2 separate regions of the Homo sapiens genome follow, and region 1 is linked to region 2. The links come from fine-mapping of genetic effects on gene expression. A gene starts in region 2. The other region holds a variant in brackets. All regions are shown on one strand. Distances are from middle to middle.

Region 1 (10,967 bases), 23 kb before region 2:
TCAGTGGGATCAGACCCCTGGGTCACCAGCCATCTGAGGAAAGCCCCCACACATGGGAGAAAAGGTCTTAAAGGGAAGAGAATGTTAATGTCCTCAGTGAGATACAAAAGAGCATTGTCTGCATGAAAAAGGAACAGGATACTAGAAAAAGGATAACAAAGGGAACAGAATAAGAAAGTTCTTAAAATTAAAAAATAGAAAAAAAACTTCAAAAGAAGGCTTAGATTCTACTATTGTCTCAAGGAGATATTCCAAAAGCAAAATAGAGATAGTTTTTTTATCTTTCCTCTCCTCCTAATGTAGGAACAAGTCTAGAAGCCCAATATAGGATGAGTAGGAATTCCAGAAAGAATAGAAAACTGAAAGGAGGAAATGAACATAGAATGCAAGATAGTTTCTTGGCACCAGGCATGGTGGCTCATGCCTGTAATCCCAACACTTTGGGAGACCAAGGCAGGCAGATGACTTGAGCTCACGAGTTTGAGACCAGCCTTGGCAACATAGGGAGACACCATCCCCCACTTCCCGTGTCTACAAACACTATGAAAATTAGCCAGGCATGGAGTTGTGTACTTATGGCCCCAGCTACGTGGGAGGCTGAGGTTGGGGATGGCTTGAGCCTGGAAGGCAGAGGGTGCAACGAGCCTGGATTGTACCACTGCACTCCATCCTGGGAGACAGAAACAGACCTTGTCTCAAACAAAACAAAACAAAACAAAACAAAAAACAAAAATGCAAGATAGTTTCTTGGCAATGAGGCCATTATCTTCTAGATTGAAAGCGGCCCTGACAATGACTGAGAAAGACCCCACAGCAAAGCTTATCATTGTCAAGTGTCAGAACCCTGAGGATAAAGAAAGAGGGGCTTCTAAAACTCTAGGTTATTGTAAATACTTGGGAATACAAAGAGCAAACAAACATGAACAGCTAGGAGACAATGGAACAACTGATGACTCCAGAAATCAGTTAAAAAGGCTTTTCGGCCTAGAATTCTTTTGTTTTTGAAACCGGGTCTCACTGTCATCTGGGCTGGAGAGCAGTGGTACAGTTGTCTTCATCTCGTGGGCTCAAGTGATCCTTCTGCTTCAGCCTCCCCAGTAGCTGGGACTACAGGCATGTGCCACTGTGCCTAGATATTTTTTTTTTTCTTTTTCTTTCCCCACCCCCGAGTCAGAGTCTCGCTGTCGCCCAGGCTGGAGTGCAGCGGCGTGATCTCAGCTCACTGCAGTTTCCACCTCCTGGGTTCAAGCAATTTTCTGCCTCAGCCTCCCGAGTAGCTGGGATTACAGGCACCCGCCACCATGCCTGGCTAATTTTTATATTTTTAGTAGAGATGGGGTTTCACCATCTTGGCCAGGCTGGTCTTGAACTCCTGACCTCATGATCTACCTGCCTTCGTCTCCCAAAGTGCTGGGATTACAGGCATGAGCCACTGTGCCCAGCCCCGTGCCCAGCTATTTTAAAATTTTTTTGTAGAGATGGGGTCTTGCCATGCTGCCCAGGCCGATTTTGAACTCCTGGGCTCAAGAGATTTCTCATGTTGTTCTCCCAAAGTGTTAGGATTACATGCATGAGTCACTGTGCCTGGTCCAGCCTAGAATTCTATACCCAGCTAAAACGATCAAGTATCAGGGCAGAACAAAGTTACTTTCTGGTATACAGTCTTAATTATTTTAACCTTGGTTTGAACCACATGAAGAGAGAAACCCAAAATGAAGCACAGAGGTATTAGGAAACGGGGGACCTAACAGGACAGAGGGTGAACGTAAAGGGGGTCACAGCATCACAGCGCAGCCTCTGCCCAGAGAGCTGCCAGTCCTGGCTGGAACAGGAGGCTGCACAGCAAGCGGCACTCTCTATGGAAAACACCAGAACCAGTGGGGTCTCTGATCCACTTCACCCTTGTAGAAAACTATGGAGATGCTGTGGGAGAACATAGGGAAAGTTAGCAAATGCAAAGAGAAGGCAGGCTGGGTGCAGTGGCTCATGCCTGTAATCCAAGCACTTTGGGAGGCCAAGGCAGGCAGATCACCTGAGGTCAGGAGTTCAAGACCAGCCTGGCCAACATGGTGAAACCCCGTCTCTACTAAAAATATAAAAATTAGCTGGGCGTGGTGGCACGTGCCTATAGTCCCAGCTACTCGGGAGGCTGAGGCAGGAGAATCACTTGAACCTGGTGGGCAGAGGCTGCAGTGAGCCGAGAGATTGCGGCACTGCGCTCCAGCCTGGGCAACAGAGCGAGACTCTGTCTACAAAACAAAGGAAAAGAGAAGCCATTATCAGTGGTAGGAAAACAAAAAGCGATACAAAGAAATAGTCTGCTACTTGACCCAGCAAAGAACATTTAGATAGAGGTCCTAGCTGAAACATTGAATGTTCTTTTTTTTTTTTGAGATGGAGTCTTGCTCTGTCACCAGGCTGGAGTGCAGTGGCGCCAACTTGGCTCACTGCAACCTCCGCCTCCCAGGTTCAAGCGATTCTTCTGCCTCGGCCTCCCGAGTAACTGAGACTACAGGCGATTGCCACCACGCCCAGCTGATTTTTTGTATTTTTAGTAGAGACGGGGTTTCACCATATTAGCCAGGGTAGTCTCGATCTCCTGATCTCGTGATCCGCCCGCCTCGGCCTCCCAAAGTGCTGGGATTACAGGCGTGAGCCACTGCGCTCGGCCTACTGAATGTTCTTTTAACAAAAAATTGCGTCTTGGAAAGGGTAGTGGAAGGAGAGGCAGGTACTGGTCCAGAGTAGGAAGTGCGCAGATGTGAACTCCAGCAGCAGGCAAGAGCAGCGTGAGCTGAAAGGGCACAGGGAGAGTTTGGGGAGTGGGATGGGGGCAGGGAGTGTGCACCACAGCCTTTGGCAACTGGTGACTCTAAGCTGTGGGTGTGGAGACTTTTGACACATTTAATTTCAAAAATAGTGCAGGTGATTCTCCCCTCTGTCCCTGGTGAGTCACGTGAGCCTGGAGGTGTGCAGGTTCCCTGTGGGGCCAGCGTTGGGCCCTACGCAGCGCCTGCACGGCCCATCCACCTCCCAGAGCAGAGCTCCGGCGTTGAGGTGTGCGTGTGTGTCGTCGCACAAAGCCTCTGTGTGCAGGTGTCAGGAGGCACATGGCCTTCCATCACTGTGGCTGGAAGCGCCTGCCACATGTGGTATTGGCTCTCCCTGTACTTAGGGCCTGGCCCCACCTGCCGTGTGGCCCGTGTCCTGCATGGTTAGGAAAAAGGTCTCTTTCGACTTTCTGGCTCAGAAGCTGACTTTAGATGCTAGCTGAGGTTAATGTTTTACTGAATTGGAGAAAGAGAAAGGTCCAGTATCATGGGCCCACCAAGAATGTTTCCAGAAGCCACAGAGATTTGTAGCTGGGATATGGGGAGAAGCCTCTGACTCATGGGTTTGTATCGTCTGGTCCCATACTGGCTGTGTGATTGCGGGGTCGAGCTGGGTAGAACCTAGCACCTGCATCCACACGCTGAGTGCCACCATCCAGACACTTAGCTGCTTGTGGGGACTGAACGTTGAGATCTTCGTGAGTCTGTAGTCTCCACAGGCCAAGCTCCTGCTTGCAGGTGCATCCTTGGGGGAACTTCACGGCTTGCTCTTTCCTCCTCCGCCTCTAGGCATTGAAGTTGATATCGATGTGGAGCACGGAGGGAAAAGAAGCCGCCTGACCCCCGTCTCTCCAGAGAGTTCCAGCACAGAGGAGAAGAGCAGCTCACAGCCAAGCAGCTGCTGCTCTGACCCCAGCAAGCCGGGTGGGAATGTTGAGGGCGCCACGCAGTCTCTGGCGGAGCAGATGAGGAAGATCGCCTTGGAGTCCGAGGGGCGCCCTGAGGCAAGCCTGTGCCCCTCCCGCCACCTGGGACCACGGCCAGCCTAGTGATCTGTGGCCTGCACCTCCGCCTCATCCTCAGCACCTCTGCAGCCCCACTTACAAACCCGAGGGAGCTGCTGCTGCTGCAGTGATGTCTGTGCCATTAAAGTCACGCTGGGAACCTGCTAGAACTTTGTAGTTACTTGGTCTTTGTGAGTGGCCACTGTTCCCCCTAGACCCCTGCAGCCTTAACTGCACGTGTGCATGCGTGCTCCCCGACTGTCTGCCAGGAGCCAGGGCCATGGTCAGGCTTGGCCTGTTGCGCGTGTCTCCTGTGTGCTCATGGTGAGTTTTGTTCCAGGAACAGATGGAGTCGGATAACTGTTCAGGAGGAGATGATGACTGGACCCATCTGTCTTCAAAAGAAGTGGACCCGTCTACAGGTGAACTCCAGTCCCTACAGATGCCAGAATCCGAAGGGCCAAGCTCTCTGGACCCCTCCCAGGAGGGACCCACAGGGCTGAAGGAAGCTGCCTTGTACCCACATCTCCCGCCAGGCAAGTGAACCAAGAGGTTTTGTACATATTCCTACCTTTCCCTTTAGAGCATCCTGCCCTCCTCTGATTTCAGCGACACAAACAGAAGGATGAGATGTTCTCCACTGCAGGGCTGTCTGTAGGTGTGGGAGGTTAGGAGTTGGTTTTGTCCTATTATGTGTACCCTGAGCAATAGCGAGTAAGCTCTGCTAATGCAGTTCTGAAAATGTTTTTCTTTAGGCAAACTCCAGAGCCAGGAATATTAATTGTAGGAGTTTCTAAAACTTAACATGCAGACCAGGAATTAAGGCAGGTGTGACACAGAGAGGGGGCAGCACTGGGTGTGTCCCTACTACTCACACTCAAGTGCCGCCTCAGGGAGTGCTGGTCTGAGAGGGGGGGGGGTCATAGCCAAGATCCCTGTAGGAGCCAGGCAGAAGCCACCGTTGAAGTGGATGGTGTGGCAGGCAGCAGTGGGGGGGTGGGGGGTGGGGACAGCTGACAGAAACTCCTCATTGTCACATGGCAGCCGTGTGTAAACCAAGGTCCGTGTGCACAACCTGCTGTGGGCCGCCGCTGTGTGTCTTCTCTGCCTTAGGGCAGGGGATGGCGAGCTATGGCCTATGGGCCAAGAGTAGTTCTTATTTTTGTTTATTTATTTATTTATTTTTATTGATCATTCTTGGGTGTTTCTCGCAGAGGGGGATTTGGCAGGGTCATAGGACAATAGTGGAGGGAAGGTCAGCAGATAAACAAGTGAACAAAGGTCTCTGGTTTTCCTAGGCAGAGGACCCTGCGGCCTTCCGCAGCGTTTGTGTCCCTGGGTACTT[G/A]AGATTAGGGAGTGGTGATGACTCTTAAGGAGCATGCTGCCTTCAAGCATCTGTTTAACAAAGCACATCTTGCACCGCCCTTAATCCATTTAACCCTGAGTGGACACAGCACATGTTTCAGAGAGCACGGGGTTGGGGGTAAGGTCACAGATCAACAGGATAAGAATTTTTCTTAGTACAGAACAAAATGAAAAGTCTCCCATGTCTACTTCTTTCCACACAGACACGGCAACCATCCGATTTCTCAATCTTTTCCCCACCTTTCCCCGCTTTCTATTCCACAAAGCCGCCATTGTCATCATGGCCCGTTCTCAATGAGCTGTTGGGTACACCTCCCAGACGGGGTGGTGGCCGGGCAGAGGGGCTCCTCACTTCCCAGTAGGGGCGGCCGGGCAGAGGCGCCCCTCACATCCCGGACGGGGTGGCTGCCGGGCGGAGGGTCTCCTCACTTCTCAGACGGGGCGGCCGGGCAGAGACGCTCCTCACCTCCCGGATGGGGTCGCGGCCAGGCAGAGGCGCTCCTCACATCCCAGACAGGGCGGCGGGGCAGAGGCGCTCCCCACATCTCAGACGATGGGTGGCCGGGCAGAGACGCTCCTCACTTTCCAGACTGGGCAGCCAGGCAGAGGGGCTCCTCACATTCCAGACGATGGGCGGCCAGGCAGAGACGCTCCTCACTTCCCAGACGGGGTGGCGGCCGGGCAGAGGCTGCAATCTCGGCACTTTGGGAGGCTAAGGCAGGCAGCTGGGAGGTGGAGGTTGTAGCGAGCCGAGATCACGCCACTGCACTCCAGCCTGGGCACCATTGAGCACTGAGTGAACCAGACTCCGTCTGCAATCCCGGCACCTCGGGAGGCCGAGGCTGGCGGATCACTCGTGGTTAGGAGCTGGAGACCAGCCCGGCCAACACAGCGAAACCCCGTCTCCACCAAAAAAACACGAAAACCAGTCAGTCGTGGCGGCGCGCACCTGCAATCGCAGGCACTCGGCAGGCTGAGGCAAGAGAATCAGGCAGGGAGGTTGCAGTGAGCCGAGATGGCAGCAGTACAGTCCAGCTTTGGCTCGGCATCAGAGGGAGACCGTGGAGAAAGAGGGAGAGGGAAAGCTATATCATTCTTATGTCTTTGCATCATCATAGCTTAGCATCTACTCATAAGTGAGAACATATGATATTTGGTATCCATTCCTGAATTACTTTACTTAGGATAATGGCCTCCAGCTCCGTCCAAGTTGCTGCAAAAGGTATTATTTCGTTCCTTTTTGTGGCTGAGTAGTATTCCATGGTGTATATATACCACATTTTCTTTATCCACTCATTGCTTGATGGGCAGTTAGGTTGGTTCCACATCTTTGCAATTGTGAGTTGTGCTGCTCCAGATATCATCTTTAACTCCTTTGCCTTCTCCACATACATTTCCAAGTCCTGTTCATTCTACCTCCAAAATGTATCTTGTATCCATTCATCTCTCTCCATCTTCAATCTATTTCAATGCCCCATCATCTCTTGCATGGAGGAGTGTAATAATTGGCTAACTGGCCTGTTCTTACATTTTAAAATCAAAAGATGTGACAGGTGAAATGCCTATTTCAGTGTCCATTGATGGTTCTGCTTACACACCACCTGGCTGCCTGGTGTCGCAGTGGCAGAGTTGAGCAGTGTGAAAAAGACTGCTTGGCCCTTTACAGGGAAAGCAGGTCCACTGTGGCCTGTGAGGACGAGAGCTCTGGGCAGGCTCGGACACTGGCAGACCCTGGTCCTGGCTGGCCAAGGCAGCAGGGTATGTGTTTCGGGTCACTCACAGGGCTCAGCACCACTCCTCATGGCTTCCTTACTGTTTCGGCAGAGGCTGACCCGCGGCTGATTGAGTCCCTCTCCCAGATGCTGTCCATGGGCTTCTCTGATGAAGGCGGCTGGCTCACCAGGCTCCTGCAGACCAAGAACTATGACATCGGAGCGGCTCTGGACACCATCCAGTATTCAAAGCATCCCCCGCCGTTGTGACCACTTTTGCCCACCTCTTCTGCGTGCCCCTCTTCTGTCTCATAGTTGTGTTAAGCTTGCGTAGAATTGCAGGTCTCTGTACGGGCCAGTTTCTCTGCCTTCTTCCAGGATCAGGGGTTAGGGTGCAAGAAGCCATTTAGGGCAGCAAAACAAGTGACATGAAGGGAGGGTCCCTGTGTGTGTGTGTGCTGATGTTTCCTGGGTGCCCTGGCTCCTTGCAGCAGGGCTGGGCCTGCGAGACCCAAGGCTCACTGCAGCGCGCTCCTGACCCCTCCCTGCAGGGGCTACGTTAGCAGCCCAGCACATAGCTTGCCTAATGGCTTTCACTTTCTCTTTTGTTTTAAATGACTCATAGGTCCCTGACATTTAGTTGATTATTTTCTGCTACAGACCTGGTACACTCTGATTTTAGATAAAGTAAGCCTAGGTGTTGTCAGCAGGCAGGCTGGGGAGGCCAGTGTTGTGGGCTTCCTGCTGGGACTGAGAAGGCTCACGAAGGGCATCCGCAATGTTGGTTTCACTGAGAGCTGCCTCCTGGTCTCTTCACCACTGTAGTTCTCTCATTTCCAAACCATCAGCTGCTTTTAAAATAAGATCTCTTTGTAGCCATCCTGTTAAATTTGTAAACAATCTAATTAAATGGCATCAGCACTTTAACCAATGACGTTTGCATAGAGAGAAATGATTGACAGTAAGTTTATTGTTAATGGTTCTTACAGAGTATCTTTAAAAGTGCCTTAGGGGAACCCTGTCCCTCCTAACAAGTGTATCTCGATTAATAACCTGCCAGTCCCAGATCACACATCATCATCGAAGTCTTCCCCAGTTATAAAGAGGTCACATAGTCGTGTGGGTCGAGGATTCTGTGCCTCCAGGACCAGGGGCCCACCCTCTGCCCAGGGAGTCCTTGCGTCCCATGAGGTCTTCCCGCAAGGCCTCTCAGACCCAGATGTGACGGGGTGTGTGGCCCGAGGAAGCTGGACAGCGGCAGTGGGCCTGCTGAGGCCTTCTCTTGAGGCCTGTGCTCTGGGGGTCCCTTGCTTAGCCTGTGCTGGACCAGCTGGCCTGGGGTCCCTCTGAAGAGACCTTGGCTGCTCACTGTCCACATGTGAACTTTTTCTAGGTGGCAGGACAAATTGCGCCCATTTAGAGGATGTGGCTGTAACCTGCTGGATGGGACTCCATAGCTCCTTCCCAGGACCCCTCAGCTCCCCGGCACTGCAGTCTGCAGAGTTCTCCTGGAGGCAGGGGCTGCTGCCTTGTTTCACCTTCCATGTCAGGCCAGCCTGTCCCTGAAAGAGAAGATGGCCATGCCCTCCATGTGTAAGAACAATGCCAGGGCCCAGGAGGACCGCCTGCCCTGCCTGGGCCTTGGCTGGGCCTCTGGTTCTGACACTTTCTGCTGGAAGCTGTCAGGCTGGGACAGGCTTTGATTTTGAGGGTTAGCAAGACAAAGCAAATAAATGCCTTCCACCTCACCGCAAACCTTCTGCTAAATTGCATGACCAGGCTTTCCAAAAACAAGACATTCTCATGTCATCAGGTGATCCATCTCCTGGGGACCTTAGAATCAGGTTACCGGTGCCTACAAAAGAATTTTGAGCAGAAGGGCCTCGAGACATCGGGAAAGGGGTGCGCTGGCTCCATTCTGCTACCTCCCACCGGGGGGCAGCTCTCCAGAGCCTGCCGGGTTCTGCAGCTGCAGAGGTGGCAGCACCGAGCTCCCTGTGGGATAGGACTGGTGCTGGGGTCTGGCTTCTCTCACCCCAGGAACCAAAGATGCTCTGAAAGTTGGGTGTCGGCCGGGCGCAGTGGCTCACGCCTGTAATCCCAGCACTTTGGGAGGCCAAGGCAGGTAGATCACCTGAGGCCAGGAGTTCGAGATCAACCTGGCCAACATGGCGAAACCCTATCACTACTAAAAATACAAAAATTAACCTGGCGTGGTGGCACGCGCCTGTAATCTCAGCTACTCGGGAGGCTGAGGCAGGAGAATCACTTGAACCTGGGAGGCAGAGGTTGCAGTGAGCCGAAATCACGCCATTCCACTCCAGCCTAGGCAACAGAGCGAACTCTGTCTCAAAAAAAAGAAAGTTGGGTTGTAGGCTGGGAGCAGTGGCTCATGCCTGAATCCCAGCACTTTGGGAGGCTGAGGCAGGCAGATTGCTTGAGCCCAGGAGTTTGACACCAGTTTGGGCAACATGGTGAAACCCCCTCTTCTACAAAAAATTAGCCAACTGTGGTGGTGAGTGCCTGTGATCCCAGCTGCTCGGGAGGATCACTTAAGCCCGGGAGATGGAGGCTGCTATGAGGTGTGATTGTACCATTGCACTCCAGCCTAGGTGACAGAGTGACACCCCATCTCAAAAACAAAAGGCTGGGTGCAGTGGCTCATGCCTGTAATCCCAGTACTTTGGGAGGCCGAGGCGGGTGGATCACTTGAGGTCAGGAGTTCAAGACCAGCCTGGCCAACATGGGGAAGCCCTGTCTCTACTAAAAATACAAAAATTAGCCAGGCGTGGTGGCGGGTGCCTGTAATCCCAGCTACTCAGGAGGCTGAGGCAGGAGAATCGCTTGAACCTGGGAGGCGGAGGTTGCAGTGAGCCAAGATCGTGCCATTACACTCCAGCCAGGGGAACAAGAGTGAAACTCCTACTCAAAAAAAAAAAAAAAACAACAGTTGGGTTGTGCTGCTTACAAAGGGAAAAGCAATGTGAAAGCAGCGATAGAGTGGGTCCCTGCAGCACTGCCACCCAGGCAGTACAGAAGAGGCTCTGCGGCCCTGAAACTTGACGTTGGCTTTGCCACTGAACTTGCCATGACTGCACAAAAACTGCAAGCCTCAGTTCCTCACCTTTAAAACAAAGCAACAGGCTTGAGGGAGCATGAAACACAATGATACCATTACAACATGCAGCCCAGGGACTGGCCCGTGGCAGACTCTCTGGTCATTCTTCTAGGATTTGGAGATTCAAAGCCACTTACTTACCCAGGATCACAAAACTAGTTGGCGGCAACATCAAAGTTTGAATTCTGCTTCTTGGCATGAGCCAGTGCTCTGTGCGTGGTGCAAGGCCAGCGGAGACCGACCTTGGCTGATGTGGGGGTGGGGGCAGTGACTGACGCCCAGTGGACTCCCAACTGCAGTGCCCTTGCTGTGCCCTGGCTCCTCTGACAGGCAGAGCAAACCCTGCACTCTGCAGCACTGGATATGCGGTGGGGCCTGCTGGACTGGAAGCTTCAAGAACAAGACAAATGGGCCAGGCGCAGTGGCCCACACCTATAGTCCCAGCACTTTGGGAAGTGGGAAGATTGCTTGAGCTCAGGAGTTTGAGACAAGCCTGGGCAACATAGTGAGACCATGTCTCTAAAAAATTTTTTTTTTCTGTTGCCCAGGCTGGAGCGCAGTGATGCAATCTCAGCTCACTGCAACCTATGCCTCTCAGGTTCAAGCAATTCTCCTGCCTCAGCCTCTCGAGTGGCTGGGATTATAGGCGTGCACAACCACGCCCAGCTAATTATTTTTAGTAGAGATGGGGTTTCACCATGTTGGCCAGGCTGGTCTCAGACTCCTGACCTCAAGTGATCCACCCACCTCGGCCTCCCAAAGTGCTGAGATTACAGGTGTGAGCCACTGCGCCTGGCCTCTACAAAATATTTTTTAAAGATTAGCCAGTGTGGTGGTGTGCATCTGTGGTCCCAGCTACTTGGCGGCTGAGGCAGGAGGATCACTTGAGCCTGGGAGGTTGAGGCTTCAGTAGGCTATGACTGTGCCACTGCACTCC
Region 2 (10,948 bases):
ACGGAACTTACAGCCTTAGATGGACAATCCGTGCATAAACACATGACTATGTAACTTCCATAGGATACTGAGAAGAGGGAGGGGAACTCCACAGTGAGCACAAAGGCCTGAAGAGGGAGCAAATTTGGGTTTAAGGTCAGAAAGAAAGCACATGGCTGTAGAAGGAGAGGAAAGATGAGAGGTGAAGGGAGAGGTGGCACTGGGGCTGGAGCAGGAAAAGAGCAAGTTCAGTAAGGCAAAGGATGCAGGACAGTTTGGGGTCCTAGAGTTCAGGAGGGGCAATACGGATGGACTGAAAAGACGTACTGAATGCCAGCTGCAAACAGCTGGATGAGAGCATTTACAGCCTGCCCCTGCCTGCCTCCACTTCCTGAGCCCACTATCCCACACCTCCACCTCCACCAACGGCCTCTGCCCTTCCCCGGCTGCCCTGATTCCTCTGTCATCTTCTCACAGTCCCCAGTGCTTTCCTTTCCTTGTGCTCAGCCGAGTTTTAAATTATGCAGATGCATGTGTGCATTAGTTTCTCTTCCCCTTCCACACAAGTGCATCTGTGAGGGCAAGAATGACAATGGGCTTACTTTCCACTGTTCCCCTTGTGCTTGGCACACAGAAAGTACTCAAGAAATACTTGCTGAATGAAGAATCAAATGGCAGTACCTTTCCAGATTCTGCTCCATCCATTTCACTTCCTGAAGGAACAGGAAGCTCGGAAGCAGGAGCTCCGTGTCTGGGGAACTCTGTTTGAGAGAGGATGATCCCAGCTGTGGCATGCTGGGACTCCCTGGAAGGGCTCGCTGCAGGCCTGCGCCCCACTTGCTTTCTGTTTTGTAGGACTCACCTGCAAAAAGGACTGCTTCTCTCCACAAGCTTTGCATGTCCACTTGACACTCTTTTTTACCTGCAATGAAATTTCAGAAATACAACTCAGATAATTATTTAAAACAAAATGGAATTGGGCTGGACTCGGTGGCTCATGCCTGTAATCCCCCTTTGGGAGGCCGAGGCGGGCAGATCACAAGGTCAGGAGTTCGAGACCAGCCTGACCAATATGGTGAAACCCAGTCTCTACTAAAAATACAAAAATTAGCCAGGCATGGTGGCGGGCACCTGTAATCCCAGCTACTCAGGAGGCTGAGACAGGAGAATCGCTTAAACCTGGGAGGTGGAGGTTGCAGTGAGCCAAGATTGCACCACTGCACTCCAGCCTACACGACAGGGTGAGACTCCATCTCAAAAAAACAAACAAACAAACAAAAAACAAATGGAATTGGATCTGAAATTTTTTTTTTTTAAATCCCAAGTAGCTGGGATTACAGGTGTGTACCACCACGCCCAGCTAATTTTTGTATTTTAGTAGAGATGGGGTTTCACCATGTTGACCAGGCTGTTCTCAAACTCCTGACCTCAAGTGATCCACCTGCCTTGGCCTCCCACAGTGCTGGGATTACAGGTGTGAGCCACCATGCCTGGCCTGAAATAATTTTTTTTTTTTTTTTTTTGAGACAGAGTCTGGCTCTGCTGCCCAGGCTGGAGTGCAGCGGCGCAATCTCGGCTCACTGCAAGCTCCCCCTCCCGGGTTCACGCCATTCTCCTGTGTCAGCCTCCCGAGTAGCTGGGACTACAGGTGCCCGCCACCACGCCTGGCTAATTTTTTGTATTTTTAGTAGAGACGGGGTTTCACCGTGTTGGCCAGGATGGTCTCGATCTCCTGACCTGGTGATCCACCCGCCTCGGCCTCCCAAAGTGCTGGGATTACAGGCGTGAGCCACCAGGGCTGGATCTGGCCTGAAATAATTTTAAAAACTGATGGAAGGAGTCCAGAAACAAACCAAAGCATGTGTAAACATTTAGCGTATCATAATCATAAAGGTGGTACTTTAAAAGTGAGAAAAGAACAGACTATTTAACAAGTCCGGGTTGGTGCTGGGAAAACTGGCTATCTGTATGAAACACAATCAAATTGGGCTGGGCACAGTGGCTTGAGCCTGTAGTCTCAGCGACGAGGGAGGCCAAGACTACTCGAGCCCAGGAGTTTGAGGCCAGCCCGGGTAGCATGGCAAGAGGCTGTCTCACAAAACCAAATCCAAACAAAACAAAACCACTCTGAAAGACCCAAATTGAAGCTGTAAAAAAAAATTCCATAATATTCCTGTCTCGCAAAACCAAATCCAAACAAAACAAAAACACTCCGTAAGACTCAAATTGAAGCTGTAAAAAAAATTCCATAATATTTAAATTCTTGTTAAACTTGGGTCTAAAAAAAATTCCGTAACATTTATTTTCAATTCTTGTTAAACCTGACTAGATGTGTTCTCTCTTAACATATAAAATGCCTAAAACCCACTCTAATGCTGGAGAATCTTTACCAGCATTCCACATGGAAGTCAAGAACAAGCCAGGGTTGCCCGCTATTATTTACCATTTTTTTCTGGATGTACTAGCCAATGGAATTAGAAGAAAGTTGTAAGATGTATAAAAATTATAAAGGAGCGGAAAACCCTATCATTATTTATAGACATAATTATAATACCTGAAATAACTCCTGACCTCAAATGATCTGCAGACCTCGGCCTCCCAAAGAAAAGCCAATTTTTTAATTTTAATTTTAATTTTAATTTTTTTGAGACGGAGTTTCGCTCTTATTGCCCAGGCTGGAGTGCAATGGTGAGATCTCGGCTTAGTGCAACCTCCACCTCCCAGGTTCAAGAGATTCTCCTGCCTCAGTCTCCCAAGTAGCTGGGATTACAGGCACGTGCCACCACGCCCGGCTAACTTTGTGGTTTTAGCAGAGACAGGGTTTCATCATGTTGGTCAGGCTGGTCTCGAACTCCTGACCTCAAGTGACCCACCCAAAGTGCTGGGATTAAAGGCATGAACCACCAGCCCGGCTGCTACCTGACATAATTTTTTATCCGAAAACCAACATAATGAAATGAGAAGCCACTAAAACCAGATAGTCTAATACAGTGGTTAGGTACAAAATTAAGATACCTTCAAAAATTAATATAGCTTTTATATGAGCAGACATCTAATTAGAACACATAATTGATAAAGAGTCCATTTATAACAGCAACAAATAAAATGTTACCAAGGGATACCAAGGTTACTTGAAGAAACGTAATGGATCATGTTTAACACCACAAAGATGTCTAGGTTGATCCATTAACATTAATACGATTAATATGATCCTAATACAAAATCATGAGGTTTTCGGGGGAAGTATCCAAAAGGATTCTAAGGAGGACAATGAGCACCTACCAAAAATTGAACTGGGTAATGACTTAGCAATTTTACTTCTCAGCTTCTACCTTAAAACACCAATAAAACTGTGGATTTTCTATGAGTATATAAACAAGTAAGAAAAGTTGTTTTTTTTTTTTTTTTTTTGAGACAGAGTCTGGCTCTGTTGCCCAGGCTGGAGCACTGTGGCGTGATCTCGGCTCACTGCAACCTCTGCCTCCTGGATTCAAGTGATTCTCCTGCCTCAGCCTCCCAAGTAGCTGCGATTACAGGTGCCCGCCACCACGACCTGTATTTTTTGTATTTTTAGTAGAGACGGGGTTTCACAACATTGCCCAGGCTGGTCTCGAACTCCTGACCTCATGATCTGCCCCCCTCGGCCTCCCAAAGTGCTGGGATTACAGGTGTGAGCCACCGCACCCGGCCAAGAAAAGCCTTTTTAAAAGTTTAGGACTCACAGAACCTGGTAAAGGAATTAATTGTGGGAACTGCTGAGATAGTATGGTTCTGCCACTCCCTAGATGGAGAAACCACTTGATTCCCGTGTATTTCGGAATTCTCATGTCTCTAAGATGGGAATGATGCCTAAGTCAAAGGTTGTTGAAGTTAAACGTGTTAAAGTAGTACACAGCCGACTTGCAATTAAAATTAAAGTAGTACATAGCCGACTTGCCGTCCTCTTTGGTTTCAAGTAATTTTTCTTTGTTTTTGAGACAGGGTCTGGCTGTCGCCCAGGCTGGAGTGCAGTGGTGTGAACACGGCTCACTGCAACCTCTACCTCCTGGACTGAAGCGATTCTCCTGCCTCAGCGACCCTGAGTAGCTAGGACTACAGATGCGCGCCACTACATCTAGCTATTTTATTTTGAATTTTAGTAGAGACAAGGTCTCGCTACGTTGCCCAGGCTGCTCTGGAACTTCTGAGCTCAAGTGATCTGCCCTAGTGGGCTTCCCAAAGTGCTGAGATTATGGGCGTGAGCCACCGGGGCCAAGCAACTCACATTTCATAAGGTTGAAAATGACCACGAGGGTCAGGGGCGCTGGCTCACACCCGTAGTCCCGGCACTTTGGGAGCTAAGGCGGGAAGAACACTTGAGCCCAGGAGTTCCAGACCAGCCTGGGCAACACGGCCGAAACCTCATTCCTACAAAAAATATAAAAATTAGCTGGGGATGGTGGCCCACACCTGTAGTACCAGCTACGTGGGAGGCTGAGGTGGATCAGCTGAGCCCGGGAGATGCAGGTTGCAGCGAGCTGTGATTGTTACCACTGCACTCCAATCTGGGCGACAAAGCGAGACCTTGTCTCAAAATAAATAAGTAAATAAATAAATAAATAACACTGGTGAACATGGAAGAGTGAAACAGGAAAACAAACAAGGAAATAGAGGCCGGGCGCAGTGGCTCACACCCGTAACACCAGCACTGTAATCCCAGCACTTTCGGAGGCCGAGGCGGGCAGATCACGAGGTCAAGAGATGGAGACCTTCCTGGTCAACATGGTGAAACCCCGTCTCTACTAAAAATACAAAAATTAACTGGGCTTGGTGGCGCGCGCCTGTAATCCAAGCTATTCGGGAGGCTGAAGCAGGAGAATCGCTTGAACCCAGGAGGCGGAGGTTGCAGTGAGCCGAGATCACGCTACTGCACTCCAGCCTGGCGACAGAGTGAGACGTGAGACTCTGTCTCAAAAACAAAAAAAGGAAATAAAAATAAACGGAAAATTTGTTTTTAAAAAACAGCATGAAACATTAGACGTGGAATAATTTAAAAATGCAAATGATCTCCCTTTATTTGCAACTCTTAGGACCCAGCTCCCGAAAGAAAATAAGTAAAAAGTTTCTGAGCCCTTAAAATGGCCCTTACAAACGCTTAGCATTAAATGCAAGCTTACAGACACATACTCAGCATCTTGCTGACTTTTTAACATACCTCTTAAACAAGTCTGATCCACGCCGGGCACAATGGCTCTCGCCTGTAATCCCAGCACTTTGGGAGGCCGAGGCAGGCGGGTCACCTGAGGTCAGGAGTTCGAGACCGGCCTGACCAACATGGAGAAACCCTGTCTCTATTAAAAACACAAAATTAGCTGGGCATGGTGGCGCATGCCTGTAATCCAGCTACTCGGGAGGCTGAGGCAGGAGAATTGCTTGAACCTGGGAGGCGGAGGTTGCGGTGAGCCGAGATCGCGCCATTGCACTCCAGCCTGGGCAACAAGAGCGAAACTCCGTCTCAAAAAAAAAAAAAAAAGAAGAAGAAGTCTGATGCTATTCTTTCTCAGGGCATAGCAGATTACCAATAATTAGGAGGGAGGGACTATCAGAAGCAGATACGGTGACTGCAGTGTTAAGTGATATCAAGCAGGGAGACAGGTGCGATCCGGAAAAGGTTAAGTGGCATTCTCTATCTGGCACGCTGAAAGTTAGGGAGGCAAATATGTCCTAGAAACACAGATTATCTGTCTTTAAGACTCCGGGGCCCGTGGTTTATGCGTCGGCGAACAGCCATATCAAGTCCCTGGCCCCGCGGAAACGGACGGCGGCAGAGGCGCGGGGCGACGGAGAGGGCGCCCAGGTGTGGAGCAGGGACGCCGCCGCGGCGCGCTCGGTCTCTAAGAACCGTCCTCCCCCTCTCACTGAAACTGCGACAGCGCTACTTCGTGGGGTAGGCTCTGCGTAAAGGATGCTATACTCAACCGGATTCTCCCACTACCTGCTACAATTCACAAGAGGCCACCTCCGCAGAACCATTACCTCTGGTTTGTACAAGAACCAAACAAAAAGCTCAGAACGTTATGCGGGGGCGACCCCAATGAGACCCGCCCTCAGCGGTCCCTGCACTCCTTCGGGCCCGGTGCATCCCGGAGCCATTCGAGACAACACCCACAGCCCCGCCACTCCCCGTCCGCTGTCCCCGCGCCGGAGGAGGAGGAGGGGGCTGGCACCCGCCAGACCTGGTGCGCCTGGAAGAGGCGGCAGCTGCAGCAGCGTAGCACCCGAGAACGCTGAAGCGACGCCATCCCTGCTTGTGCAGTCGCCAGGCAGCCAAGCGCGTGCGCTCTGCATTTGTCCCGCCGCGGCCCCGCCCCACGCACGCGCTCCGAACCCTCTAGTCCCCTACGCCGTCTCGCATGCGCTTATACTCTTCGCTCCGGCCGCCGCGGCCCCGCCCCTGCGCACTGGGATCCCTCTAGCCTGCCGCGCCTCTCGCTGGTCATCTGCGCCCCTCCGACCTCGGAAAGAGTCCTGGGTGCGGGATTCCTGGTAGCCGACTCGTCGTCTGACCAGGGCCGTGCCCGCATCTTCCTAAGGCACTGGTTCCGGCCCTGGGGAGACTGGAATTGAGACGACAGGGCCTCCGCTGACCAGTCCTTGGACACAACGCGGAGCGGGGCTGAGGGGCCGCCCTGCCAGGCCTGCGCTGCCGTGCTTTTAGGTAGCAGCGAACAGTTAGCCTTTGAACCGGAGCCCGGGGTGGAATACGGGGAGACGGAGGGGCTCACCACACCCACGCTTCCCGGAGAGGGCGGCGGAGGCGCGCGGCCGCCGAGCGCGAAGCCGGTCCCCCTGCAGCCCCGGGAGCGTCCCAGGCCCACCCTACGGAGGGTGGAGGCGCCCCCGCAGCCCGACGCTCACGCCGCAACCCTGTGTGGCTTAGGGTTGTAACCTCGTTGGAAAATAAAATACAAAAAATATTAAAATTACCTCCCACCGTACAACCCTCGGTGTCTAGGGTTGTAATTTTAATTTTTTTTCCAACTTTTACACAGTGACTATCACCAAAAAAGCGAGGTGTTTTTTTTTTGTTTTTTGTTTTTGGAGACAGTCTCGCTCAGTCGCCCAGGCTGGAGTGCAGTGGCGTGATTCTCCTGCCTCAGCCTCTCCAGTAGCTGGGATTACGGATGCCCGCCACCACGCCCAGCTAATTTTTGTATTTTTAGTAGAGACGGTGTTTCTCCATGTTGGCCAGGCTGGTCTCGAACTCCTGACCTCAGGTGATCCACCCGCCTCGGCTTCCCAAAGTACTGGGATTACAGACGTGAGCCACTGCACCCGGCCGACACTCGCTTTTAACAGCAGAAACCATCCCGTTGAAGAAAACACCCAATCCTGACAAGGGTGCAGGGAGGGCTACCCCTCTGACAGGGTGCTGGGAGAACGGTCAAGTGCAAAACCGTGGAAAGCAACCTGGCAATACTGCTACCCCAAGAAAGGAATCCCTTCACCTAGGTGATTTATTATTCATTCCCTAGTGTTCCCTGAAGAATACTAGGAAGAAATGGAAATCAGTGTTCTGAAGAACGGCACGGACTCTTAGGCAGTTCCATCAGCAAGAACCTGAGTTTGAAGTGACAACGTGCTGTGGAGAGGCAAGGTTACAGAATTACAGTACATCGTTTGACTTCTGTGACACCGGCATTATTTTCTGGCGTGTGTGTGTGTGTGTGTGGCTAAGGTCGTAGGTAATGCTAATTTTTAAATTTTTCCAACTTTTGTACAGTAAGTAGTTAGAAAAAAAAATTGAGAGACAATATGCCAATAGACAATGGTCAGATAACGAATGACAATAAACTGACTGCAGCCTCTGCAGTAACCGGGCAGTCGGCTGCTTGGGAAGGACGTGGTCAGGACTGCTTGCTCCTCTATTTTTTGTACCACCCTCCCCATGTCAGAACCAACCCAAGAAAGCGCTCCCCAAACCAGTCACAGAAAACATCCTGCTTCTTGTTAGCTCACCTCCAGTTTCCAACAGCCTGCGGTCAGAACCACCTGGAGCCTTCCCCGTTTTCCACCCCCTGCGTCCTTGCGCCTACCCACACCGGGGATGTTGCTGACTCCCTTGCTGTAGCAAGCTCTGAATACTGTTTCTCATTTGGGTGGTTTTCCTTCATTTCTACGTTTGAGCTACTGTGGCTGAGAACAGAAAGCATCTGCAAAAAATGTTTTATGCTTAATGAAAGGAGTAGAATAAAAATTTCATATATGACATCAGTTAAACTCTGAAAAAAAATACAGAATAAACACCAAAATACTGAGTAATCTGTAGCACTAGGAAAAATTGTTCTACTTTTCTGTATATTTTTCTCCTTTTGGCAATGAACCGGTAATCCTTTAAAAATTCATGTATATAGTTTTTTTTCTTGGAAATTATAAGAATGATTTGATGAGTGGTTTGATGCAACTTATATTACTTGGTAAGCAGTTTTAAAATATTCATGTTTACTTATAAAATTTAAATTTTTTATTTGTATTATCTATATATTATTTAATGTTACTGTTCTGGTTGTTAAACATTTTGAGTTATCTTCCCAGGTTGAATGATTTATGGATTAAAGTACTATTGTACATTTTCGTACATTGTATCACGTGAATAGGCCAGATTCCTCTTTCCTATTCTTTGGTTAATTTCTTTGGTGTATTCACAAGCTTATACTTCCATATATTAAAAACATTTATCTTACCTCTGTAAAGACAAAAAATGGGAAATAAAAAGCCATTTATCCAAATTCCAAGTTATTCAAATCTAATTGAATATAATCAGTGTAAGACTTAAAATTGCCAAATATGTGGGGTTATTATATCTTAATTATATTAAGGCCAACAATGGTCTTTTTGGTATAAATCATTTGAAATTATTTTATGGTACTTTGTGTAAATACTAGAAAGGAAATTGAAGCCAGGCATGCTGGTTCATGCCTGTAGTCCCAGCTACTAGGGAGGCTGGGGCAGGAGGATTACTTCAGGCCAAGAGTTTGAGGCTGCCATGAGCTATGGTCATGCCACAGCACTCCAGTCTGTCTCTAAAACAAACAAACAAGCAGACCGGGCATGGTGGCTCACGCCTGTAATCCCAGCATGTTGGGAGGCCGAGGCGGGTGGATCACGAGGTCAGGAGTTTGAGACCAGCCTGGCCAATATGGTGAAACCCCATCTCTAGTAAAAATAGAAAAATTAGCTGGGCGTGGTGGTGCACGCCTGTAGTCCCAGCTGCTTGGGAGGCTGAGGCAGAAGAATTGCTTGAACCCAGGAGGCAGAGGTTGCAGTGAGCTGAGATCACGCCACTGCACTCCATGCTGGGCAACAGAGCAAGACTTGGTCTCAAAAAACAAAAAAACAAAAAAACAAAAAAACAAAGCTACTTAATTAAAACAAAAACAGCAGCCACAGAGATATACAATAGTACCTGAGTTTCACCTTCTGCAGCTTTAGTTACCCAGAGTCAACAGCCACCTGGAAAAGAGATGAGTACAGTACAAGAAGATATTGTGAGACAGACCACATTTACAACTTTCATTACAGTATAACCGTTACATTTTATTATTAGTTATTGTTGTCAATCTCTTAAGGTGCCTAATTCATAAACTTAATCACAGGTATGTATGCATAGGAAAAAACAGTATGTATAAGGTTTGTTATTATCTGTGGTTTTAGACATCCACTGGGGGTCTGGTTTTAGATATCCACTGTATCCCCTGTGGATAAGGGGGTAACTGCTGTATCTTTTAGTAGAAGCAAGAGCAGCCCCATGTGGGGGCTAACACTGGACACTGGTCAGTTTCAGCTCCTCATGCAAAGTGAGGGTATCCTTGTGGCTCCAGCCCTGGGGCCCCCTGCGGTCACCTTTGGCTCCACAGTCTGGTTCTTGAACCCAAGGGCAGACAGCTTGCTACAGCCCAGGCCTGAGGATGCACTTCCTTCACCAGGACCCACAACCCCTGCCCATGAAGACCTGTGGAGCTCAGGGCATCCCCTGATGCAGGTTGGTCAGGACCTGCCCAGCTTGCACCAGCAGGTTCTGCGTCTCCATCTGACCTGGCAGACCTTGCACTCTTCCACCCACTGTGGAGGACTAAGTGTCTTGAACTTCCAGAACACAGCCAGGGCCCCATACTTGGCCTGGGGAGAAGTTGGGAGGCCTAAGCAGTGGTTGGGGGCCACAGCAAGGCATTGCACACAGTGGTTTTTATTTCTTTCAGGGATTTATTAAGGCATTGAGCACAGTGTAATTTCTAGCCAAGTGAAATGAATCCAAGGAAATATATCAGGACCTGAGGGATGTTTTTTTAAAGTTACTGGAAAGGATGATGAGCTGAGAGCACGTGTACAGCCACGCCTGTGCGCAGCGCCCACTCTGTGCAATAAACATGTTCTGCCCATGTTCCTCAGTCAGGAGGTTCAGGCTCCCGGAGAGCACCTGAGGGTTCCATCACTTTGGTGCCCAACAAGCACATGCCCCCCAACCTGGTGCCAAGAGGCAGGAATGACCCCCATACCACATAGCTGCAGGAAAGCATCCACGGATGGAGGGACTCAGCTGGCCTGGCCGCAGTGTGGAGCACAGAGGTATGAGGCAAGCAAGGGCAGATCTGAGAGCCTGTAATGCTAGGCAGGTGCAGCTGGTGCGAGGCGGGCTCCCACCAGGTGTAAGGAAGGTGGGAGCCACAGCCTCTTCCTGGGCCCAGAAGCAGCCGGCGCCAGGAGATGCAGGCCCAGGGAATCTGTCTAAGGCAGCTGGGTCTGCACCAGCCTTCTTTCCACTCACAACTCACTGCTCCTGGGAGAGCAGGAGGGGCACACCTTTAAAGAGAAACTGATAAGGGAGGAAAGGCAGGAGGAGATGAGGCCAGCCCCACTGATGACACCTTGGGCCAGGCCTCACAGCTGCAGGCATCAGCCGGAAACTCCAGGCTGCTCATGGTCACTGGCG

Which allele goes with the higher level. Positions count from the first base shown, and alleles are read on the strand shown. Sizes are in standard deviations (SD) of each study's normalised expression.
For the expression in testis of the gene that starts at base 6,281 in region 2, A is the low allele of the variant in region 1 and G is the other (moderate effect, 0.46 SD a copy in GTEx).

What was found. PIP is the estimated chance that this variant, and not a neighbour inherited with it, causes the effect.
Region 1: its variant is fine-mapped to the expression of MRNIP in testis (GTEx, PIP above 0.99).

What each region holds. Positions count from the first base shown.
Region 1 is chr5:179,829,412-179,840,378 of GRCh38, forward strand. SQSTM1 (sequestosome 1) reads left to right here. Exons shown (of 8, transcript NM_003900.5): 6 at 3,621-3,835; 7 at 4,176-4,371; 8 at 7,025-8,667. The coding sequence ends at 7,182. It overlaps MRNIP (MRN complex interacting protein), which reads right to left. Exons shown (of 7, transcript NM_016175.4): 7 at 7,865-8,474. The coding sequence ends at 7,980. Among named protein-coding and RNA genes, the nearest start is that of SQSTM1, 14 kb to the left of the region's middle. RefSeq lists enhancers at 7,358-7,652, 7,434-7,583. The variant G/A (reference allele first, on the strand shown) is at 5,181.
Region 2 is chr5:179,852,537-179,863,484 of GRCh38, forward strand. It overlaps MRNIP (MRN complex interacting protein), which reads right to left and starts at 6,281. Exons shown (of 7, transcript NM_016175.4): 1 at 6,195-6,281; 2 at 842-901. The coding sequence starts at 6,260. TBC1D9B (TBC1 domain family member 9B) reads right to left here. Exons shown (of 21, transcript NM_015043.4): 21 at 9,535-10,948. The coding sequence ends at 10,912. MRNIP-DT (MRNIP divergent transcript) reads left to right here and starts at 6,467. Exons shown (of 2, transcript NR_134283.1): 1 at 6,467-6,676; 2 at 7,494-8,747. RefSeq lists silencers at 5,703-5,812, 6,713-6,842 and an enhancer at 6,443-6,642.